Homo sapiens: one gene and its partners. The protein of the gene in region 1 purifies or fractionates together with the protein of each later gene. This does not show direct contact. Each region holds a gene or a part of one and is shown in the gene's direction. Other genes may lie near its edges. The genes, in order: ADORA3, IPO9 and IPO11.

Region 1 (4,079 bases):
TCTGGGGAGTCTGCTCAGGGAGAAATGACAAGTCTGGCGGGGACAAGTATGGGATTTGGTAAGACTTGGATCAACTTGGGATACAGGGTGGGGGTCGGGAGTGGAATCAATGAATGATGCCAGAGCAGATCAACTAACAAGAGGACCCTGATGAGCCCCAGGCAGAGGCGTCTCCCTTATGCCCCACTCTGAAGTGTTTGTTAGTAAACACCAGAACGCCATTGTTGTTACTGCTGAATTTTATTTTGGGCTGTACATATTTAGATGCTTAAGGTAAAAATGATAAAGCCCTCAAGCCACTGTGTGGGTTTGGGTCCAAGTGTTCCTTCTTGCTGCCTCTCTAACACGCCTGGTTAAAATAATCCCTTTGGATGGTGCTGAGAAGCACCTGAACCAAGTGGGTCCCCAAATAACAATGGCGTGCAAGTGTCTGGTTCCCAGAAGTTGGTGACTAGGTAAGCAGCTTCAGGGAGAGGGGGCTGATTCCCAGACAGTCGCCTGTTCCTGCGGGGATGGGGCTGAGGCTTGGGGAATGTGGGCAGGAGGATATGCCATTTGATTCTGTTGCACACGTTCTTTTCCCTTCTTTCTGTATGTCTGGTCATTCTGCTATTCTGTCGTTCCTCACATAGGTTGGACATTGGCCGGCTGCCAGCATAAGTGCCAGTGTGATTTTGCTAGGGTGTGAGCTGAGAAAGAGAGGTGGAGGCTAAGCAGGTGTGATGCTTCTCAGAGGTGCTGAGTTTTTGCCCTTCTGAGCAGGGAATCTTTGCTTATCCCTTTGACCAAGGATCTTTGCTGCAAAGGCTGGGTATCGGCTGTGCTCAGCAAAGCGTCAACTCGTGCAAGAACTTAGCAGGAATAGTTCTGGCTAAGGTTAGGAGGCTGCCACCAAAGTCTCTTTTTTGTTCCTCTGCTTCTCCCGTTTGCCTCCTTATCATGAGATCTTTTTGCTAAGCTGGCAGAAAGATTGCATAGTCAGTGCTTCCAGCTCTGCTCCCACCTGATCCTGCACTGTCCTCTGGTCCCTGAATGAATGAACTCTGATACCCAATCTTGTCTCGAGCCTTCTCTATGCCACTCATGGCTCCTCTTCTGCTCTTTCCATCTTTTTGCTGAGAGTTCTGAGCTCTGTACTTCCTCTTGGCCCATCTCACTTCCTGAAACACCCCTGAAGAGGGTTGCTTATCTTGATGGAACTCAAAAAGCCAAAAAGCTGCAGGCAGAGGCGTTGAGGACATCTGTTTGGGGAACTAAGAGCAGCAGCACTTTCAGATTCAGTCCATATAGAGCTGTCCTACAGCATTCTGGAAACTTGAGGATGTGCGGTGCATAAAGGGGCTGGAAGTGACCCACCTGTGATGAGCCCTTTCTAAGGAGAAGGGTTTCCAAGAGATCACCCCACCAGAAAAGGGTAGGAATGAGCAAGTTGGGAATTTTAGACTGTCACTGCACATGGACCTCTGGGAAGACGTCTGGCGAGAGCTAGGCCCACTGGCCCTACAGACGGATCTTGCTGGCTCACCTGTCCCTGTGGAGGTTCCCCTGGGAAGGCAAGATGCCCAACAACAGCACTGCTCTGTCATTGGCCAATGTTACCTACATCACCATGGAAATTTTCATTGGACTCTGCGCCATAGTGGGCAACGTGCTGGTCATCTGCGTGGTCAAGCTGAACCCCAGCCTGCAGACCACCACCTTCTATTTCATTGTCTCTCTAGCCCTGGCTGACATTGCTGTTGGGGTGCTGGTCATGCCTTTGGCCATTGTTGTCAGCCTGGGCATCACAATCCACTTCTACAGCTGCCTTTTTATGACTTGCCTACTGCTTATCTTTACCCACGCCTCCATCATGTCCTTGCTGGCCATCGCTGTGGACCGATACTTGCGGGTCAAGCTTACCGTCAGGTAGCCTGCGGCGTGGGGTGGGCAGCAATTGAGGCAGCTGGGAAATGAGGCTACAAAGCCCAGAGCCCAGACTTTTTGAGTAAAAATGTATCCAAATTGGCCCTTGATGTTGAAAGAGGGCAATAAGTGTCTTTTTGTGATATGGTCTGTGAGGGGGTTAGCAACAATGGGCTGGGACTCAGGAGCTAGAATCAGAGGAATGCTCCAATCCTTTCTCCACTGACTAGGGGTGGGTGCTCAATCCCTCCAGCTGTAATTACTAATCCTTGGCTAAAAATGATGAAATCTTGATGCATCTTTAATTAGTAAAAAATGCTCTTCAGTTTTAGAAATGATAAAAGCCTACTAGATAAGACTTATTATTTTAGGAGAAGCAGGCAGATAAACATAAGAGGAGATAAACTGATGGTTCTGTTGTTTTGCAAATGTAGGTTATTATTTTATCTTTGCTTCCTATTCTGTGCCTACTTCAATGTTGAGAAAGGGATTCTTGGAATATATATATATTCCAATATATATATATTTATTATAATAAATATATGTATCCTATATATATTCATTATAATAAATATATGTATCCTATATATATTCACTATAATAAATATATGTATCCTATATATATTCATTATAATAAATATATGTATCCTATATATATTCATTATAATAAATATATGTATCCTATATATATTCATTATAATGAATATATATCCTATATATTTATTATAATGAATATATATCCTATATATTTATTATAATAAATATATCCTATATATTCATTATAATAAATATATATCCTATATATTTATTATAATATATATATCCTATATATTTATTATAATAAATATATATCCTATATATTTATTATATTAAATATATATCCTATATATTTATTATATTAAATATATATCTCCTATATATATTTATTATAATATATATATCCTATATATTTATTATATTAAATATATATCCTATATATAATATAATAAATATATATATCCTATATATATGTATATTTTTCCTCCTCCTCCTGAGATGTGAGAGCTTTTTTCGTAAAAATATTCTTCATTACATGTGACCATATGAATAGAACGAACTGCCAAATGGAGAAATCTACTTCCCCGGGTGACCTAAATTGCATTGGTCTCGTGTTTCTCGTCACTTCTCTGGAGGAAAGAGCAGAGTGAGGGAGCTACAAACAAGCTTTAGATGTAGACAGTCTAGGTTCAAATCCCAGATTAGAGATCTGATCTTGAACAAGTTGTTTAACTTTATCTCCTTTGGTTTCCACTCTGTATCACAGTGGTTACGATGCTCGGAACTCAGACTTACCTTGTTTTAGTTTTAGCCCCACCACTTCTAACTTGTAGAAGTTACTTGTTTGTGTTTCACTTTTTAATCTACAAAATGGGGATAATTGCACTATCCTCATAAAATGAAATGCGTTAACATATGTAAAGCTTTTAGAAACATACCTGTCACACAGTCTGTGCTCAATAAATGGTGGCTATCATTACTATTATTTTCACAATTGCCATCAATAAAATTGAGGTTATAATAAAATATCTCCTGTTTGTTGTGAGATTTAATTGAGATAAAAATCTACTGATACTTAACTATATTTGTTTCCTTTTTGTGGTCTGTATAGGCTGCTGTCAGGAAGGACAGTTTAAGGAGCAATGGGGACTCTTACTCTTACTGTCCTTTAAGGTCTCTGAAACACTTCAATACAATTTTGTAACTTCATTGATTCATTTAACTCAAATACCAAGTATGGATGCCCATGAAGATAGAGAAGCAGGAGCAGGCACAGGTAGAGGGGAAGTGTCGGGGAGGCATAGTATAATTTATGAGAATCTGCACAACAGCCAAACAGAACAGTGCCAAGAACAGCAGGCAAGCTTGCTTTGAGAATATCATTTCTCACCAGGCAGACAATCCTAGGAGACTTAGATGAATCTCAGCTCCCAGGAACTGAATAATTCTTAGGCTTACACCTTATTGGGAACAGAAGGAGTAAACTGAGTTCAAGGGGGACTTAAACTGCTGAATTCACCTGTGGATGTTTTTGAGTTAAAAAAAAAAAGAAAAAGAAAAGATAGGTAACAGTTGTATAGCTCTCAGTAAGTGGAGCCCTGAGTGGAGCACGTAAGCACTTGACTCTAGGCAACATC
Region 2 (3,730 bases), about 90 Mb from region 1:
GTTTATACAGACTGAGGGCCTTCTGGCATCTGTCCCTCGATTACTAATCTTGCTTGCCACCCCTGTCTCCCCAGAATGGCGGAGAGTGCTTGCGGGCCTATGTGTCAGTGACCCTGGAACAAGTAGCCCAGTGGCATGATGAGCAGGGCCACAATGGACTGTGGTATGTGATGCAAGTGGTGAGCCAGCTCCTGGACCCCCGCACCTCAGAGTTCACTGCGGCCTTTGTGGGCCGCCTTGTTTCCACCCTCATCTCCAAGGCAGGGCGGGAACTCGGGGAGAATCTAGACCAGATTCTTCGTGCCATCCTCAGTAAGATGCAGCAGGCAGAGACGCTCAGTGTCATGCAGGTAAGAGAGCAGTGGGGAGTGGGCTTCCTACTCCCTGGCTGATAGAAATGAAAATTCGTATTTTGGTCCTGAGTTATTTTATTTTACCCTCTTACTAGCCTTGTAGGACAGTTAAGTAAAATGGGACCTGTCTGATCTGTTTGGCCTAAGAAACATGGACAAGGAAATCTCCCATGTTTTCTTGTCCTGTGGATAATACCCTCAGTGTAGACTGTATTTCTTATCTGACTGGCCAGTTCCCTCTCATCTCCTATGTCTCTGAAATTGATTTCCCTGAAGCAAATGTCCTTATTTTCTCCTAGTCCCTGATCATGGTGTTCGCTCATCTGGTGCACACTCAGCTAGAACCTCTCTTGGAGTTCCTGTGTAGCCTCCCAGGACCTACTGGCAAACCTGCTCTAGAGTTTGTGATGGCTGAGTGGACAAGCCGACAGCACCTGTTCTATGGACAGTATGAAGGCAAAGTCAGGTAGAACCTCATCTTTCTTTTCTGGGCATTCTGCCACCACTCATATTTCTTTTTTTTTTTTTTTTTTTTTTTTTTTTTTGAGACAGTCTCGCTCTGTCGCCCAGGCTGGAGTGCAGTGGCACAATCTTGGCTCACTGCAACCTCCACCTCCTAGGTTCAAGCAATTCTCCTGCTCCTGCCTCAGCCGTCCGAATATTACACACATGCACCACCATACCCAGTGAATTCTTTGTGTGTGTGTTTTTAGTAGAGAGAGGGTTTCACCATGTTGGCCAGGCTGGTCTTGAACTCCTGACCTCAAGTGATCCACCCACTTCGGCCTCCCACAGTGCTGGGATTACAGGTGTGAGCCACTGCTCCTGACACATATTTCTTTTTTTTCCTGATTTGCTCCATTGATTTTTGTTTGACATTTCAAATGGCTCTCTGTATTCCCTTTTCCCTGTCTTTCTTTATTGCTAACGCACATATGTGAATAGCTGCCATCTTGAAATCCCCAAAAGACAGTCAACACAGGTAGACTATATATTTCTGGTCTCTGTTTACAAGAGATCCCTTCTCTACCACAGACTTCACACAGCTAAGTGCTGCTAGTGGCTTATTTTCCTTTATAAGCCCAAGCCTTGGCCAGGCACAGTGGCTCACACCTATAATCCCAGCACTTTAGGAGGCTGAGGCGAGCAGATCACCGGAGGTCAGGAGTTCAAGACCAGCCTGGCAAACATGGTGAAACACTGTCTCTACTATAAATACAAAAAATAGCTGGATGTGGTTGTGGGTGCCTGTAATCCCAGCTACTCGGGAGGCTAAGGCAGGAGAATCGCTTGAACCAAGGAGGCAGATCACGCCATTGCACTTCAGCCTGGGCGACGAGCGAAATTGTCTCAGAAAAATAAAAATAAAAAACCCAACCTTCTAACCCTGGCTTCCTAACTTTTTATCCTGGATTTTTATACCACTGATTCTTATCACCTCGTTGCACCTTACAATATGGTGCAACCTTAGCTTTGTTCAAGAAGAACAGGTCACCTGTAATCCCGGCACTTTGGAAGACTGAGGTGGGCGAATTGCTTGAGACCCACCCGGGCAACATGGTGAAACCTGTGTCTACCAAAAAAATACAAAAATTAGCCAGGCACGGTGGCGCATGCCTATAGTCCCAGCTACTTGGGAGGCTGAGGTGGGAGGATCACCTGAACCCAGGGAGGTCAAGGCTGCAGTGAACCATGATCACACCACTGCACTCAGCCTGGGTGACAGAATGAGACCCTATCTCAAAAACAACAACAACAACAACAACAACAAAAAAGCACAGATCTCATTAAACCACCTCATGAACTCTAAAATCTCATTTTCAGCTGAACTCTCTTAGCTCTCCTAATTAGTTGTTAACGGAATTTTCACTATCAAATAGAGGGTCTTAGGACATAATTGCTTATCTCCTTGGAGTGAACTCGAGATGGGCGGCTGATTGACCTTTTTTTGGATCTTCCTTGCCAGCTCTGTGGCACTCTGTAAGCTGCTCCAGCATGGCATCAATGCAGATGACAAACGGCTACAGGATATCCGTGTGAAGGGAGAGGAGATCTACAGCATGGATGAGGGCATCCGCACCCGCTCTAAGTCAGCCAAAAGTGGGTGCTGCTGCGATTCTTCCAATCCTCTCCCTATACGAAGGGGCTAAGGATACCTGGGTGAAGGGAAGGAATGCACTGTGGTGTATATTTTTAAAACAATTGTTGGTGATGGGTTTGATAAAGAAGAAGCAGGAAACTTAGGTAAAAGGGATCAGAACATACGGTTTCTTCCTGTTGTGGAAAATGGACAAAAATAGGCCGGGCATGGTGGCTCACGCCTGTAATCCCAGCACTTGGTGGGAGGCCAGAGCGGATGGATCACTTGAAGTCAGGAGTTTGAGACTAGCCTGACCAACATGGTGAAATCCCGTCTTTACTAAAAATACAAAAATTAGCCAGGCATGGTGGTGGGCGCCTGTAATCCCAGCTACTTGGGAGGCTGAGGCAGGAGAATCGCTTGAACCTGGGAGGCAGAGGTTGCGGTGAGCAAAGATCGTGCCACTGCATTCCAGCCTGGACAACAAAATGAGACTCCGTCTCAAAAAAAAAAAAAAAAAAAAAATGCAGGCGTGGTGGCTCACACCTGTAATCCCAGCACTTTGGGAGGCCGAGGTGGGTGGATCGCCTGAGGCCGGGAGTTCGAGACCAGCCTGACCAACATAGAGAAACCCCGTCTCTACCAAAAATACAAAGTTAGCCAGGCATGGTGGCGCATGCCTGTAATCCCAGCTACTCGGGAGGCTGAGGCAGGAGAATCGCTTGAACCCGGGAGGTGGAGGTTGCAGTGAGCCAAGATCACGCCATTGCACTCCAGCCTGGGCAATAAGAGCAAAACTCTGTCTGAAGAAAAAAAAAAGACAAAAATAGTCTCAGGCACCAAGCATCCCAGCTTCCAGCTTCATTCAGAAGCGTGGGCACAGATAGTCAGCATGTCTTTGTTACTGAGTTGCCTTTGGCCTGTAACTCCAATGATTTGCAGGTAGGGAGTATAGAGCTGCTATCTTTAATGTAGATTTATAATTACCTCCGCTGTCTCTCAAATTCTAAGTCATTGGGACTGGAGTACTGGCTCTATACAGTTCCTTGGTTTCAGAGCTTTATTACTAACAAGACTGTATCTCCTTTAATCCCTGAACTCTCATCTCTCCCAGCTTCTGAACTGTTACAATACCAAACAATAAAGTTATTTAACTTTAAGTCACTCTTTGGAGACTGGATATAGTCAGGTACAGTGAAAGTCTGAGGGGTGGTGAACTCTGGTGAGTGGCACTGAGGAGAGGACAGGGGTACTTCCAGAAGTAAGCTCAGTGACACTCTGACTTGAAACCTTTTTC
Region 3 (3,730 bases), on another chromosome or scaffold:
TGAATTGGGAAACTAACAAATTGTGTTTAAATATAAATTTTTTAAAAAACTAGTTTTATTTGCTTTTACTGATACCTATTTATATATATATTTTTTAGGACCCACAAATGTGGAAGATATGAATGCACTGTTAATCAAAGATGCTGGTATGTTAAACTTAAGTGATTTAGAAGCATTTATTTATTCAGTAGATGGAGAGTCTGTTTTGTGGTAGATTTTGTGCTGAGGGTGTTGAGATACAAGAGTAACTAAAATACAGGAACAATCTGATTGGGGAGATAACCAAGTAAACAGATAATGTATTATAATAATACTATACAGGATAGTTAATGCTAAAGTAGGTGATGATCACCAGATAGTTTGGTGTGTCTAAGGAAAGATTCCCAAAGAAGTGTAATGGAAGAACACAAGGATAAGTAGGAGTTACACGTGTGAGGAGGTGGTGATGGAAAGAGGGTGTTGCATTCCAGGGAGATGGAGCAATAAGTACAAAGACTTGAAGGAAAGAGGAGGAAGCACAGTTAGAATTTGAATTGTGACTATTTTGGTTTAACTGGAACATTGGGGTTAAAGGTTGAGTTGAGGCTGGAGAGAGTTAAGTAGGGACCAGATCATAAAATATTACATCCATTTTAGAAGCAGGCATTATTTTATAATTTTTATAGTTGGACTTAAATATTTTAGAATGAATTGAATTATCTGTTTGAAAGTAGTAAGGAATATTTAGGAAAAACATGAAGTAAAATAGTGTTTCTAAAATAAATTATTTCTTCTACTTAAATTATTTCTACTTAAATAATTTCCCTGATTAGCATATTGTGTGTTTCCTTTAATTAACATATGTTTCATACACTCATTTGCAGATCTGATATCTGAAACCTTTAATTTTTTTTCTTAAATTTTCTTCTCAGTGTATAATGCTGTTGGATTAGCTGCTTATGAGCTCTTTGACAGTGTTGATTTTGATCAGTGGTTTAAAAACCAGCTTCTTCCAGAATTACAAGTCATTCACAATAGGCAAGTATAAAATTTTATATTTATTATACACTTACTTTACCTTATTTATTTTATTAATGAAGACAGGAAGGCATTAAAATGGCTTACAATTTAAAAAATGCAATCGTATAAGTTAGGTAATGTCTTATGTGGAAAGGAATAAGAATTTTGACATCTAGGAAGTATTTGATATATCAGGTAGTTTGCAGGAGAAAAGGAGGACTTTATGCAAAGATGAGGGAGGATGGAGGTCTCTGAGTTCAAGAAACTATGCCTAAGAAAAAGACAGTTCGAAACTTAGCAGGATGTATGCCTAGTGTCAGAAGTAGCCTAATCAAAGTAACATCTGTGAAAGATGAATGTCTTGGGATCACATAATGCATACTGCAAGTCTCTGGGGAGACGGTAGAGTAGGATATAGAGACATCATGGCAAAAATATTTGAATACCCTTTCTAAGTTCTAATTGAGGTACCTAATTAAATAGTACAGATTCATATTACATTTAGTAATATGAATTATGAAATGAATTAATTTAGTACATTTAATAGCACATTTGCCCAATTCTATTTTTTTTGAAATAGTCTCATTTTGTCACCCAGCCTGGAGTGCAGTGGTGCAATCTCAGCTCACTGCAACCTCCACCTCCCAGGTCCAAGCGATTCTTGTGCCTCAGTCTCCTGAGTAGCAGGGATTACAGGCGCATGCCACCACACCTGGCCAGCCCAATTCTTACGTTTTATATACATTTAAGCACTTGTCTACTTAAATTTTAGGTATTGAATGCATAAAATGAAAGGAAAAACCTCTTTCATAGTTTATAAAATTATTTCTTAGTTTAAAATTGGAGAATTTGAAAAAATTCTAAGGGGCTTTTTTCTTAATTTGAAGGATACACTTCTACTGATTCACTTCAGTATACCTGGGGCCTATCAGAATACTTAGCATATAGTCATAGATAGTTAATATTTGTTGACTAAACTAATGAATGCATAGGTCACATTTAGAGCCACAGAATTTGTAGAGCTGGAGATACTCTAAAAGTAATTCTTAACAGTAAGTAGCTGTTTATCTCTTCAGTTATTCAATCATTTATTCAGTTAACATATATTTTTAACACTTGGAATTTGCCATGTCCTATAGGCGGTGTTAAATAAAATAGACTCTGACTTAGTCTCAGGGAGCTAGTGAGCCTTTGATGGAGAGAAAGCTTTCATTGGCGAAACAAATGTGCAGTTTAGTTGTCCTTAAACCCTAGAGGCTATTTAGTGTAAGACCTTCACTGTCCAGTGCAGAAGCTCCCTACGTGTAGCTATTGAGCACTTGAAATGTGCTTAGTGCAACTGAGGCAACAACTTTCCAATTTTAATTAATTTAAATTTAAAATTTAAAGCCATGTAAAATATTTATTGATTACATGTTGAAATGATATTTTGGATATATTGGGATATGTAAAAATATTAATAAGTTTTTTTTTTTTTTTTTGAGATGGAGTCTTGCTCTGTTGCCCAGGCTGTAGTGCAGTGGCGCGATCTCGACTCACTGCAAGCTCTGCCTCCCGGGTTCATGCCGTTCTCCTGCCTCAGCCTCCCCAGTAGCTGGGACTACAGGTGCCCGCCACCATGCCCGGCTAATTTTTTTGTATTTTTTTTTAGTAGAGACGAGGTTTCACTGTGTTAGCCAGGATGATCTCGATCTCCTGACCTCGTGATCTGCCCGCCTTGGCCTCCCAAAGAATAAGATTTTGTTTCTTTTCTCTTATAATGTGGGTACTAAAAAATTAAAATAACATATGTGGCCTGCATTATATTTCTAATGGACAAAGCTGATGTAGACCAGTGTTTCTCAAACTTTAATGTACATATGAGTCACCTGGTAATCTTGTTAAAGTTTAGGTTTTGACTTAGTAGGTCTGGGAAAAATCAAGCAATGCACACATTAAATAGCAAAGTGATCTATACTTTTACTTCTGTTTGGATGTGTCTATGAGTTTGGAATTTTACCTTTCTGAGTTTCATATTCTTTATCTGGAACAGAGTCTAATATGGTCTTAGTCCCAAAATTGATGGTTCTTTGGTGCTTTTACCTCACTCTACACAAGTTGTTACTTCTGCCTCTGTCACTTGGTTCAAACAGTTTCTGTCCCTTGAAATGACATTTTTCCACCCTTTGGCTCCAATATTGTTTATCTCAAAGACTTGCTCAGATTCCGTCTGTCTCTGCCCATTTCTTCTCTTCCTTTTCTAAAGTCCTAGTACACTACTTTGTGTTTTTAAATTCCTTTAGGTGTGTTATAAACTTCTTGGGGGCAGGGAATACTTACATACTTTTTTTTGTAACTTTATTTATGTTATTTAATTTTTGAGATGGGGTCTCACTTTGTCACCCAGGCTAGAGTGCAGTGCCATGATGTTGGCCCACTGCAATCTCTGCTTCCTGGGCTCAAGTGATCCTCCCACCTCTGCCTCCTGAGCAGCTGGGACCACGATGTGTGCCACCATGCCCAGCTATTTTTGTGTAGTTTTGGTAGGGTTTTATCATATTGGCCAGGCTGGTCTCAAACTCCTGAGCTCAAGCCATCTGCCCACCTCAGCCTCCCAAATGCTGGGATTACAGGTGTAAGCCACTGCACCCGGCCCAGTTTTTGCAACTTTAATGAGCAGTTTTTTCCTGTGTGCTTGATCATCTTTTAAAATTGCAATTTTTTGGGAAAAAAAAAAGTGTTTCATTTATAC

What was found.
Region 2: the proteins of ADORA3 (region 1) and IPO9 purify together in Homo sapiens (affinity purification with mass spectrometry, with the first as the bait; 2 studies listed by BioGRID). This does not show direct contact.
Region 3: the proteins of ADORA3 (region 1) and IPO11 purify together in Homo sapiens (affinity purification with mass spectrometry, with the first as the bait; 2 studies listed by BioGRID). This does not show direct contact.

What each region holds. Positions count from the first base shown.
Region 1 is NC_000001.11:111,500,834-111,504,912, reverse strand, and holds the start of ADORA3 (adenosine receptor A3), read left to right. Parts: upstream 1-1,279; 5' UTR 1,280-1,558; coding exon 1,559-1,908; intron 1,909-4,079. Other genes in the region: TMIGD3 (transmembrane and immunoglobulin domain containing 3), read left to right, coding at 1,559-1,908.
Region 2 is NC_000001.11:201,870,509-201,874,238, forward strand, and holds part of IPO9 (importin-9), read left to right. Parts: intron 1-74; coding exon 75-350; intron 351-652; coding exon 653-819; intron 820-2,319; coding exon 2,320-2,453; intron 2,454-3,730. UniProt on the Homo sapiens protein: Nuclear transport receptor that mediates nuclear import of proteins, such as histones, proteasome and actin. Serves as receptor for nuclear localization signals (NLS) in cargo substrates.
Region 3 is NC_000005.10:62,489,204-62,492,933, forward strand, and holds part of IPO11 (importin-11), read left to right. Parts: intron 1-98; coding exon 99-146; intron 147-911; coding exon 912-1,017; intron 1,018-3,730. UniProt on the Homo sapiens protein: Functions in nuclear protein import as nuclear transport receptor. Serves as receptor for nuclear localization signals (NLS) in cargo substrates.